3 linked regions of the Homo sapiens genome follow. The protein of the gene in region 3 interacts with the protein of the main gene of each other region in a pairwise test. Each region holds a gene or a part of one and is shown on either strand. Other genes may lie near its edges. The genes, in order: RARB, TBL1X and HR.

What was found.
Region 1: the proteins of HR (region 3) and RARB interact in a two-hybrid assay, tested with the Homo sapiens proteins (one large-scale study listed by BioGRID and IntAct).
Region 2: the proteins of HR (region 3) and TBL1X interact in a two-hybrid assay, tested with the Homo sapiens proteins (one large-scale study listed by BioGRID and IntAct).

The regions. Positions count from the first base shown.
Region 1 is NC_000003.12:25,564,215-25,567,863, reverse strand, and holds part of RARB (retinoic acid receptor beta), read right to left. Parts: intron 1-3,649. UniProt on the Homo sapiens protein: Receptor for retinoic acid. Retinoic acid receptors bind as heterodimers to their target response elements in response to their ligands, all-trans or 9-cis retinoic acid, and regulate gene expression in various biological processes.
Region 2 is NC_000023.11:9,471,419-9,475,067, forward strand, and holds part of TBL1X (F-box-like/WD repeat-containing protein TBL1X), read left to right. Parts: intron 1-3,649. UniProt on the Homo sapiens protein: F-box-like protein involved in the recruitment of the ubiquitin/19S proteasome complex to nuclear receptor-regulated transcription units. Plays an essential role in transcription activation mediated by nuclear receptors.
Region 3 is NC_000008.11:22,117,362-22,121,010, forward strand, and holds part of HR (lysine-specific demethylase hairless), read right to left. Parts: intron 3,598-3,649; coding exon 3,355-3,597; intron 3,147-3,354; coding exon 2,981-3,146; intron 2,813-2,980; coding exon 2,743-2,812; intron 2,530-2,742; coding exon 2,399-2,529; intron 1,923-2,398; coding exon 1,803-1,922; intron 1,705-1,802; coding exon 1,589-1,704; intron 1-1,588. UniProt on the Homo sapiens protein: Histone demethylase that specifically demethylates both mono- and dimethylated 'Lys-9' of histone H3. May act as a transcription regulator controlling hair biology (via targeting of collagens), neural activity, and cell cycle.

The sequences.
Region 1 (3,649 bases), on a different chromosome or scaffold from region 3:
CTTGTGTGTGAGTGCGCAGGATCTCAGGTGATCAGACCCCCCTCTTTTCCTCGGCCTCTGCCAATGGCCTTCCTTAGCTAGTGAAAAAGTCAAATCTAAGCAGGGAGGGTCCTTCTGAAACAGAGCCCCGAGGAAGAGTACTCGGCAGTTTTTCTCAAAGTTATACGCAGAGGTACCATGTGACGCAGCAATTCCTCTCCTAGGTGTACACCCAAGAGAACTGAAAATATGTGTCTATGCAAAACTTGTCCATGAATGTTCATGACAGTGTGACTCACGGCAGTTGAAAAGTGGAAAGAACCCAAATGTTCATCACCCGATGACGGGGAAGTGGAATCTAGGACGTCCTTATGGTGGAATATTATTTGTCATAGAAAGGAATGAATTATGGATGCATACTACAACACAGATGAAGCTTTCACACATACGCCTTAAAGAAGCCAGTCGCAAAAGGCCACACATTGTGTGATTCTAAATTATATGGATGTCCAGAACAGGCCAATCCAAAGACAAAAAGTAGACTCGTGGCTGTCAGGTACGGGGGCAAGTTGGTGGGGAGGGAGGATCGGGAGTGCTAACGGGTTCAGGGTTTTGTTTTTTAGGAGATGAAAATGTTCTGGACTTACTGGTGAAGGCTGCACAACTTAGTGGATCCACTACGCACCGCTGAATGGTACAGTTTAAAATGATGAATGTTATGCTACGTGAATTATATCACAAAACAACACCAACAAAAAACCCAGAGCCCTGTGGGAGGTGACACATCGCTAAATACCAGGAACTGTTTGAGTCGATTCTGAAGCTGAGATGACACCTACAGCTACATTAAAACACAGCAGCAGCCTCACTACCCTTTAGTGATTGTGTGGCAAGGGCCACTGGGCATCAGCAGGTGAAGAATCCTAGCTCGCGAAATCCCCACAGTAAGCCAGGTGAGGTGGGCCTTATGACCCCATTTCTACACTCAAGGAACTTGAGGCCCAACAATACCATGTTTGAAAATAGTCAACCCAATGTGCAGAAAGAGAAACCACAAAACAAACTAACAACCCACAGAAGGAGTCCCCATAATCCCATCCACAGGGAAGTCTGCAGGACCTGTGTCTGCTCCTAAGCATTCTGCTTCACTGTCCCCATCCACCACCAGGGGCCTGGAAAACTCAGACGAGCAAACCCAGCTCTAGAGGGTTACCAGGAGAGAGGAGACACTGTGAGCTGTCACCATGAAGTAACTGAACCAAGCAAGAAAGGGAGGGGTGAGGTCCTGTGGGAAGGGGCCCTGGGTGAGCTGCAGCTGGGCACCAAGTTGGGCATCTCTGTTGGGTTGTGCAGTGATCACACACGCCGTTTGCAAAATCACAACTGTGAAGCCAGAGCACCATTTTCTGTGCTTTGGGCCCAATTTGGAGCAGCCTTTGCAGCTCACTCGAAGGGGAGCAGTGTGTAACCTCAGGCTACTTTCCACACTCCTTTTGTCCCCTACGTGAAGTCCCACCACCACTGTCTATGTGAATAAAGGACTCCTGGGATTATCACAAATTCTTCCACACCCACAAAATGCAGGGACAACCCCTCTGGTGATGATGCCCCAATTACATACAGCTTCATAAGTTGACGGACAAATTTTCTAAACACGTGGCTTCAGCAGCTGCTTCCCTCAATGGTTTTAAACTCTAGAAGAACGCAGACGCAGTGTTTGAGAAGGGCTGCCAAGAACCACCAGAATCATGGAGGTGACACAGTGCACAAGAAGCCACGGGGGCCTAGGGATGGTAGCTTTGTCCAAGTTCTTGGGACTATTGGTCCCTTTGAGGCCTCGTGGTCAGTGGCTCCTGGGGCAGTGCAGGGACTCGTTCCCCTGGAGGCCAGCAGTGGGAGGCAAGGGCGATACAAGTACTGCAGGGGAAGTCAGGAGATCTGGAACTAGTGCTAGCTCCACCACTTACCACCTGGGGTCAACTCCAGAGGAGACAGCTCCTTTCAGAGCCTCCCCCGAGATGGCAGTAGCACCTGCATGGAGACACACAGATGGTGGGCTTGGTGGGAAGGAGGTAGACTACTGTAAAGGCCTATGTGGGTTAGTTATGCAGGAAGAATGTAAGGCCCTTCCGTGGGGGAAATGGATGACCTAAACACCAAGGACTTGTGGGGATTACTGTGGGGCCTGTGGCTGTCAGTGGCAGAGGAGACTGATATGAAAAATGGTGCTTGGAGAAGCCATCGCAGTGGCACCAAATGAGTGGGTGGATTCATTTGTTCCTTCATTGTTTTGTTCATTCATTCATTCAATGAATATTTATTGAGTATCTACTATGTGCCATCGCAAAACAGGATGGTTGTTGCTACCATGGAGCAAAAACTTATGGTAGCAGACAGACATTCATCATACAATAAAACAGTGACAGTAATAATAATAATAATAGAATATTGGCATCACTATTATTACATGTACTGCAATTAATATACGAGAGTATTATTTACCACAATACTGAAAGTGTTCATTACAACTATCATAAAGCCTTCTATTCATGGTAGGCCATTCAATCCTTACAACAACCTAATAGAGTAGATATCACTATTATACCCATTTTGCAGATGAGAAAGTGGAGGCACAGGAAGGTGAGTACCCTGCCTGAGGCCATGCATCCTGTGAGTGATACAGTCAGGATCAGAACTTAGGAAACCCACTGTGCTCCGCTGCGTCTGAGTCTACCCCATGTACACACAGTCCACAGCGTAGTGAGTACAATGAAGGATGCTACAGGGAGCTGTGCCTGTGTATTACTGGGTGTGGCAGGGGGATCCTACTGGTCCTAGATTAGGAAGCTAACGCTGGGGAATTGGGAGGGTAAATTGAGGGATGCTATGGGATGGTGGGTGGGGAGATGACTCTCTTCTCTGGGAGCGTGGGGTGTGCATCTGATGCTCAGCTCCAAGGCTGCCTGGGATGTTTGATGGTGGACCTCTTCTTTCACTCTGATTGCGACTGACTGGTATATGCACTCATATACCTATGCCAGACCTGGGAGTTTGACAAGCTGCTTTCAGGTACGGTGCACCTCTGGGAGGGAATGGAGAGGCAAAGAGAGGAGCAAACACTGTCAAGCCTGCATCAAAGCCCTCCCCTCCAAGTCTGTGAATATCTGAAAGGCAAGGGCCACATGTTACTTGTCTCTATGTCCCCAGGGCTTAATACAAGATCCGACCCACAGATGGGGGCCTCAAAACTGTTTTGCAAATGATAAGGTAGACATATAACTAAATGTGGTGTTCTGTCCACTGTCAGGGCCTATATGTGGCAATACAGAGTTCACCTGAGCCTCTTTCTTCCAGAACTTAAAGGTCTCACTATCATGTTGGGGTCTGCGGGGGAATCACTAACTGCTCTCCACCCCTACAGTAGTAGCCAGAAGGTTGATGAAGCAGGTGGGGCATTCAGGGGGTCACAGATGTGATTTATACACCTGATAGAACCCGGCCTGATGTTTGCAAAGCGCTTCTTGGATGAAAGGTGCTCCATAAAATATCAAGTATTCTCCTTGTGAGGGGCTAAGTGCTACAAATCAGATTTGGTGGCATAAAAGTAACATATTTATGATCCACTATCATATTGCAAATGAAATGAATGTAATAAAAGTGTCACTTATAC
Region 2 (3,649 bases), on a different chromosome or scaffold from region 3:
TTTGGAAGATGGACCCTGCTTCAAGGTCTGGGAGGCCATGTTTTTTTCAGACTGGTTAAGGATGACGGTTTTATGTTAACTAAACATTGGGATCAAGTGACAGTTGTTTATGTCCGGTGCCTAGAGTATCAGTTTTCCCATGATTAAAATAAGCGATATTTTGGTAAACATTGATAAGTTAGTTGCGCATTTTAGTTCAGAAACCCACAGCGAGTCAGAAGGCGCTTTGTGCTGCTGGGCGCCTCTGAGTGATTCCGGGGAGTGCGGCAGTTCTCCAGCCCCAGGAGACCCTGTGAAAGAAGCACAAACAATGCTCACGGCAAAACTCACAGTGTTTATTCTTGACCTGGGTGTCTGCCTTGAATTCTTGTCATTTTTCCTATCGTGGTGGATGTAGCCGGAATGCTTTAAAGAAAACATGAGAGTTTTTTCTGCCTGTTTCCCTTGAGCCTGGAACCGATTATGACCCCAGATAGCCTGCACAGGGCTCTTTCCTTTCTGGAACACCTGCCCAGGCTAGAATATGGGAGTAGGGAGGAGGTGAGGCTCTCTCCTGCCCGGTAACCTTCCCGGCCAGCTCTCCAAGACGCTGAAACCTTCCTTCGGGTCTGTTGAAACTGCATCCCCAGCACCATCATGTCGGAGCAAGAAGAGAAGGGCATGTGTCCCCTTTAGGCTTGACTCTTTCCAATTAGGGACCTGCCTGTTGTTAGGATTTAGAGTCCATGTGAATGTGCAGTATTGTTCAGTGCTGCGAGCATTTTTGCTTGTCTGAATTTCCTGATAGAAGGGAATTTGGACAAAAAGAAGCTTATTGTACATGGTGCCATTTTATTCCTTAAATCAATAATAACAAATACTTTATTTATGTATTTTTAGAGATGGGGTCTTGCTCTGTTGCCCTGATCATAGCTCACTGCAGCCTTGGCTTTCTGGGCTCAAGTGATCCTTCTGCCTCAGCCTCCCAAGTAGCTGGGCCGACAGGCACAAGTCAGCATGTCCAGCTTTTTTTTTTTCTTTCTTTTTTTTTTTTTTTTTAATTTTCAATTTTTTTCTAGAGATTGGGTCTTGCTGTGTTGCCTAGGCTGGTCTTGAGCACCTGGACTCAAGCAATCTTCCTGCATCGGCCTCCCAAAGTGCTGCGATTACAGTTGTGAGCTACTGTTCCTGGCCAACATATACTTTAATATGGCAAGACCATATAAAATAATTTTAAGAGGCCAGGTGTGGTGGCTCATGCCCCCCAGCACTTTGGGAGGCTGAGGGGGGCAGATCACGAGGTCAGGAGATCGAGACCATTCTAGCTAACACGGTGAAACCCCGTCTCTACTAAAAATACAAAAAATTAGCCAGGCATGGTGGTGGGCGCCTATAGTCCCAGCTCCTTGGGAGGCTGAGACAGGAGAATGGCGTGAACCATGGAGGTGGAGCTTGCAGTGAGCCAAGATTGCGCCACTGCACTCCAGCCTGGGTGACAGAGCAAGACTCCGTCTCAAAAAAAAAAACAATAATTTTAAGAACTGGAGGAAAATTCAGCAGGACTGAGTCGTGATTTCAGTTTCTGGTGCACTGTGGGTAATTGGGTAATTGTCAGCCTGGATGCTTGTGCTCCTTTAGTTGTCACTGTTACCTTGTCATCTATGTGAAGATGAGAAATGAAGTTGAGTGGAGAACTGTCGCCAAAGTCTGCCATGTAAAAATCGGTAGTGCCAATGTGCAAAGGTAATTCCCAGGTGCTATAAAAGTCCAGGTGGCTTCACAGTTTCAGATTGTATTTCCCGAAAGCGTAGAGAATTGATATCCCTGAATAGGAAATTGACGTCCCTGCCATTTGGTTCATTTGGGGAACAGAATAAACTTGTGTCCTTGCCTTCAGTTCTTTTTTCAACAGAATCTTATCAAGCATTTGAATCGTACACAACTGTAATGCCAGCTCCATGTTGATAAAAACTCAAGAATTCAAAATTATAAACTTGAAAACAGCAATTGCCAACTTCTGACAGTAGCAGGAGAGTCTGGAGGACCTGTTCAGAGGAAGTCGGGTACTGTTTCCTTTTCTTGTCTAGGTTTGTTCTTGTCCGATGGGATCAGAGAGATTGAGATGGGGCATGATAGGCGGTGGGTTCAGGAGAAAGGGAAGCTTTAGAAATGAAGGTAGAAAAGATGCTTTCTTATTGGAACAGTGTTTTCAACGTTGAGCTCTGGAATGTTGCAGCCAACTAATGGTTCTCATTTGGGACAGTTCTGTCCCCCACCTTTGAAGGGGGTTTGGTTTAATTCCCAATTTGATTATGAAGAAAATACCAGATTCAGCTTGCATTTTCAAGACACAGTGGTTCTATGTCAACTTCAGCCATTTCCAGGGATCTGTCTTAGGATACTTCAAAAAGCCTAACCTTTGAGATGCACTCAGCTCATAAGTTCGTGAAAATAAGAATGAATAATCTTCCCTGTCCAGTACATGACAGAAATTATTGTAGACCAGATGAGAGCAAGGAGAGATACTTGTTGATATTACATGTCACGGGATGCTCTGTTAAATTTTATGGGACTCTGAGTGTAATTCCTTTAAGCCAGTAGTCTCTAAATTTGGGGGAAGGACAGGGGACAGAAATGACTTGTTTCAGATTTTAATTCCCAAAAGGGTCTTAGTGAGTTTCATGCCCTCTGGCAGGTGCACAGCAAGATTTATTGGGATGCAGGAAGAAATTATGAAAATGTCCATTAAGAAAATCTCTAATACTTGTAAAAAATATATTTCTTGTCCATGAAATGCATGTTACTTGAGTATTTTATATATTTAATAAATTACATGAGTTAGGAGCACCTTCTGAAAACTTTTTTGCTGAAAAGGATATATGATGAAAGAAACATTTATGATGTAGGTCCCCAAAGGCTGGAAGAGGGGGTGATACCAACGTCCCTGCCTGCAGGTAGGACACAGTTGTACTCCCCTTTCCTCTGACTTCAGCTACTAAGGTATGTGTGCGTTTGCACGCACATGTATGTGCGTTAAGTAACTTTGAGATCCACCAGCTTAAGGACTGGACATCGTTCCAGAGGTACAGGTATTAGTGATTTGACTTAGGGAAGAAAGAATATGCAATAACAGGGAACCATGCACATACTGGATCTATTGTATTTTGCGTGTTGTTTTTAAAGCTGAAAAAATGCGCTTGTTTCGGAACTAGATGACAGTACCTGTTTGCAGGTCCACAAGGAAACCTTGGAACAATGCTATGCTTTTTAAGCGTTTTATGACTGCATTGTTTTCATAATCACTGAATTCTGTTTATAAATCAGCTGATTTCATTGACGGATGCCCTCAGGGCTCTGGAGAATTAGGCGTTTTGCTGCAGAAATGGTTCAGAATTTCAAAGACATCAACGTGAGATTGTACTGGAATTGAGTTGTGATAAAAGTCCTAGGGTGCTTTAAATCTTTAAATCTGGTTATTTGTTTGTTTGTTTTTTGAGGCAGAGTCTCACTCTGTCGCCTAGGCTAGAGTGTAGTGGCGTGATCTCAGCTCACTGCAACCTCCGCCTCCTGGGTTCAAGCAATTCTCCTGCCTCAGCCTCCCGAGTTGCTGGGATTACAGGCGCCTGCCACTGCACCCGGCTAATTTTTGTATTTTTAGTAGAGACGGGGT
Region 3 (3,649 bases):
CCCCTTTCTGCAAATCCGAGGGAGACGTCCTGCATAATCCCAGTTCATAAACTGTCTACCAGGACTTCTTCATCTGAAGTCTTTGGAATGGCCAGAATTGTGTGCTAAGTGGTGGATGAGGAGAGAGCTGTGTGTCCCTGGGGAGACAACTCAAAGTGTTCATCAGGGTCTCCCTAAGATTCCGGATGCAGAAAAGGGAAGGACCACTGCGAGGCTCTGAGTGCCAGCAGGTGAACAGGCTTTCCGGCCAGGCTGAGGCCTCTGCAGCAGCCACAGCTACGGGGACCTCACAAGCCTAACCAGAGCAGGGAGCTCTCTGGGCAGGCAGGGACTCGCAGAGGACAGAGGTGCCCAGGGAACATGTGCAAAGGGGACGCCAGCATCGTGCTCCAACCCACCACCAGCCCAATCCACCCCCTTTGGCAAGGACCTCAGCCATTGCCCCTGGGCTTAGGGCTGCAAGATGGGGCGTGGGGGAAGGGAAGGCTGGTGAAGCAAATTGGACCCTAGGGGAGTCCCAGCTGGGTGCCAAGATTCCTTTGCCCTTGGAGATTCAGCTCCATCCTGGAGCTGAGCAGTGTTTCCCAGGCCACCCAGGGAGACTGTGCCCCTCAGCCCTGCCCCGTGAGTCACTGGGTTGGGCCGTAGTGACTGCCCACGGCCAGCCACACCCAGCCCAGAAGAGGCCATCTGTGTGTGGAGGTGTGCTTGTCTGCTCCCCTCTGCGTGTCCCAGCATCTGTGTGTGTATCTACACATGTGTGTACCTGTGGGCAGGAGGGGTGCACACCATGCTGGCCTCTGCACGTCTCCGTGTGTGTGTGTGCCTTGGCGAGGGGTGACACTAGGTGGAAGTCTTTTCCCCAGGATAATGAGGGCTCAGCTGGACTTGGGAACCACGGGGCTGCCCTCGCCTTACCCCTGGACTCTCTCCTCCCCTGCGCCTCAAGCTTCTTGCCTCCAGCCCACCCCATCACCTTCCCCTTCCCTGGCTCCTCACCTGACCCATCTCTCCCTCCACTTCCCTCAGCCCCCTTCCTTGCTAGCCCCTCCGGGAGCATCTCCTCCAGGCAGTCTCCCCTAACAAGATGCAAATACCAAAAGGTGGGCAGCCGGACGGAGTCTCAGAAGGCAGAGGAGGCTGCCTGCCTCCAGGAAGAGCATAGAGTAGTGACCTGGGGCCATGACAGACAGAAGCTCAGATCCCAGCCCTGCCACTGAGCTTCGGTGTTCTCATCTGCCAATGGGAAAGGAGCAGTGCCTGCCTCATGGGGCGGGGGGCTGAGACGGGTAACAGATAATTGTGCCTAAGGCCCTAGCACCACGTCCAGCCTCGGGCAGCTGGTGCTCTCATTTCATCATCGGGTCCAGGCTCTCCTGCCGCAGCCCCTGCCCCTTCTCTGAGCCCCACGGCAGAACTCCGGGTCCCCTCTGCCTTCTCTGCACCTGTCTGTGCGAGTTGGGTCTGTGCAGCTCACCTGAGGGCGTGGGGCAGGGAGCGAGCACATGGGACCGCACACTGGGGTGGGACTGGACGAGCTTCTAGGGCTGGGCGGGGGGAAGGGGAGGGCTCCCGGCTGCCTCCTCACCATCTGGAGAAAGCGGCGGATGCGCTGGGCGTCCTGTGCCCGGAACACGTGCCACACAGTGCTGACCTGGCTGCCCGGAGACCAGAGCCCCTCCCCGTCCAGGCCTGAAAGGAAGTCTGAGGAGGAAAGAGCGCTCAGGCAGGCCCAGGGCTGGTGGCGACAAACACTCACCTCTGTAGCTTGTCCCCGCTCCTGCCTCTGGCCGAGGACCTACCTTTCTGTGCCCGGTGCCAGGCAGGCAGTGGTGTGTCGGCATGCACCAGGATGCTGACCAGGTCGGCCACCTCCACACAGAGGTTCTTGGTCCCCAGGTGTCCCCGGTGCGGGCTCACACCTGCATGGCAATAGAGAAAGAACAGTTAGAAATGGAATCAGAGAGCCAGGCGCGGTTGCTCACGCCTGTAATCCTGGCACTTTGGGAGGCCCAGGCGGGCAGATCACCTGAGGTCAGGAGTTTGAGACCAGCCTCAACATGGAGAAACCCCCTCTCTACTAAAAATAGAAAAAATTAGCCGGGCGTGGTGGTGCATGCCTGTAATCCCAGCTACTCGGGAGGCTGAGGCAGGAGAATTGCTTGAACCTGGGAGGCGGAGGTTGCGGTGAGCCGAGATAGTGCCATTGCACTCCAGCCTGGGCAACAAGAGCAAAACTCCGTCTCAACAACAACAAAAAAAAAAAAAAAGAAAGAAAGAAATGGAATCAGAGAAGCGCTTCAGGCCCCAGGGCCTTGGCACAGACGCTCGTGTGCCCCGAGATGACAGGCAGACAGGCATGGGAGTAGAGACTGGGCAGGAGTGGAGGGACACTCACCATAGGCTGCCCAGAGCTGGGGCTCCAGTGGACGCAGGGCAAGGCCCGGTGGGAGGTAGGAAGCCAGGTTGAGTTTTCCATGGAGGGCGCAGTACTCCGGAAGTGGCAGACTGGCAGCTAGGTTCTCCACCCTGTCAGGGTAGGGGGTCATGCCCAGCAGGCCCAACCTGGGCACCAGAGACCCCATCAAAGCCCCACCACCACCGGGGTAACTCCCAGAGGGCAAACATGAGAGTACCAGGGACCACGGGGTGGGGGTTGGGGGCAGAGGAGGAGGGGAGGGCTGAACCAGGCGGGGCCTGCGGTGGCGGGGAGGTAGGGCTGGCCCTTGGTGACATACACACCTGCTGGTGTCCTCATCCCCCAAAGCTCGGTGCAGCAGGAGGACAGAGCCCTCGTCTGACTTTGGGCGAACTACAGGAGGAGACAGAACGGCCATTGGCCTCCTCAGCCCTGAAGCCCCTGCCCCGGCGGCAGCAACACCTGCTTCCAGCCCCTCGGGGTCACCCTGGGACTCCTCTGCCACCCGATCCCTAGGGCTTGGGCTCCCAGCTCCCTCTCCCCTGTGTTGGGGACACTTACGCTCAGGCCAGGAGAAGCCCTCCCAGAATGTTGTGCTGCCCAGGCTGCTGGGCTGGGGAGGTCCGAGGGGGCTCAGCGCCTGCACCTGGCCTCCAAGTGCCCCAAGAGCTTCTGTCCCCCACAGGTTGCCCTGCAATGTCCTTTGGATCCCTGACACCAACACAGGCTGTGGTGGGAAAGGAAGGAGGCCATGAGGAGAATGGCCAGGGTGCCCGCCATGGCCAGGCAAGGGCGTGTTGTAAGGGCAGTAGAACAGCTCGGGGACAGCCCTCCTGCTCCCCCTGAGCCACTGGGTCTGTCTGGGCCTAGGGACCAAGGCCCCGAGGGGCAGGTGGGGTGGCCAGGGCCGGGAGGGGAGGGGAGGGGTGCCTCACCTGGCCCTGCCTCCAGTGCTCCTGGAAGAGGTGGAAGCCACGCCGAGGGCAAGGCTGGGGCTCCTGCAGCCACAGCAAAGCCCCTGGGGGAGGCAGCCGGGGCCGCACTGGAGAGAGGGGCAGGCCCAGGCCCTTGCGCAGACCCGGGCCAGCTCGAAGCCCCGGCCCCAGGGCTTTCTCCTGGATCTTCCGTTCCACCACCTGTGCGATAATGCTGTCCAGGATGTTGGTGATGCGGTCATCCTGCAGAGAGGGGCACAGGGGCTTAGGACCCACTGGGCCCCACAGGGAGGGC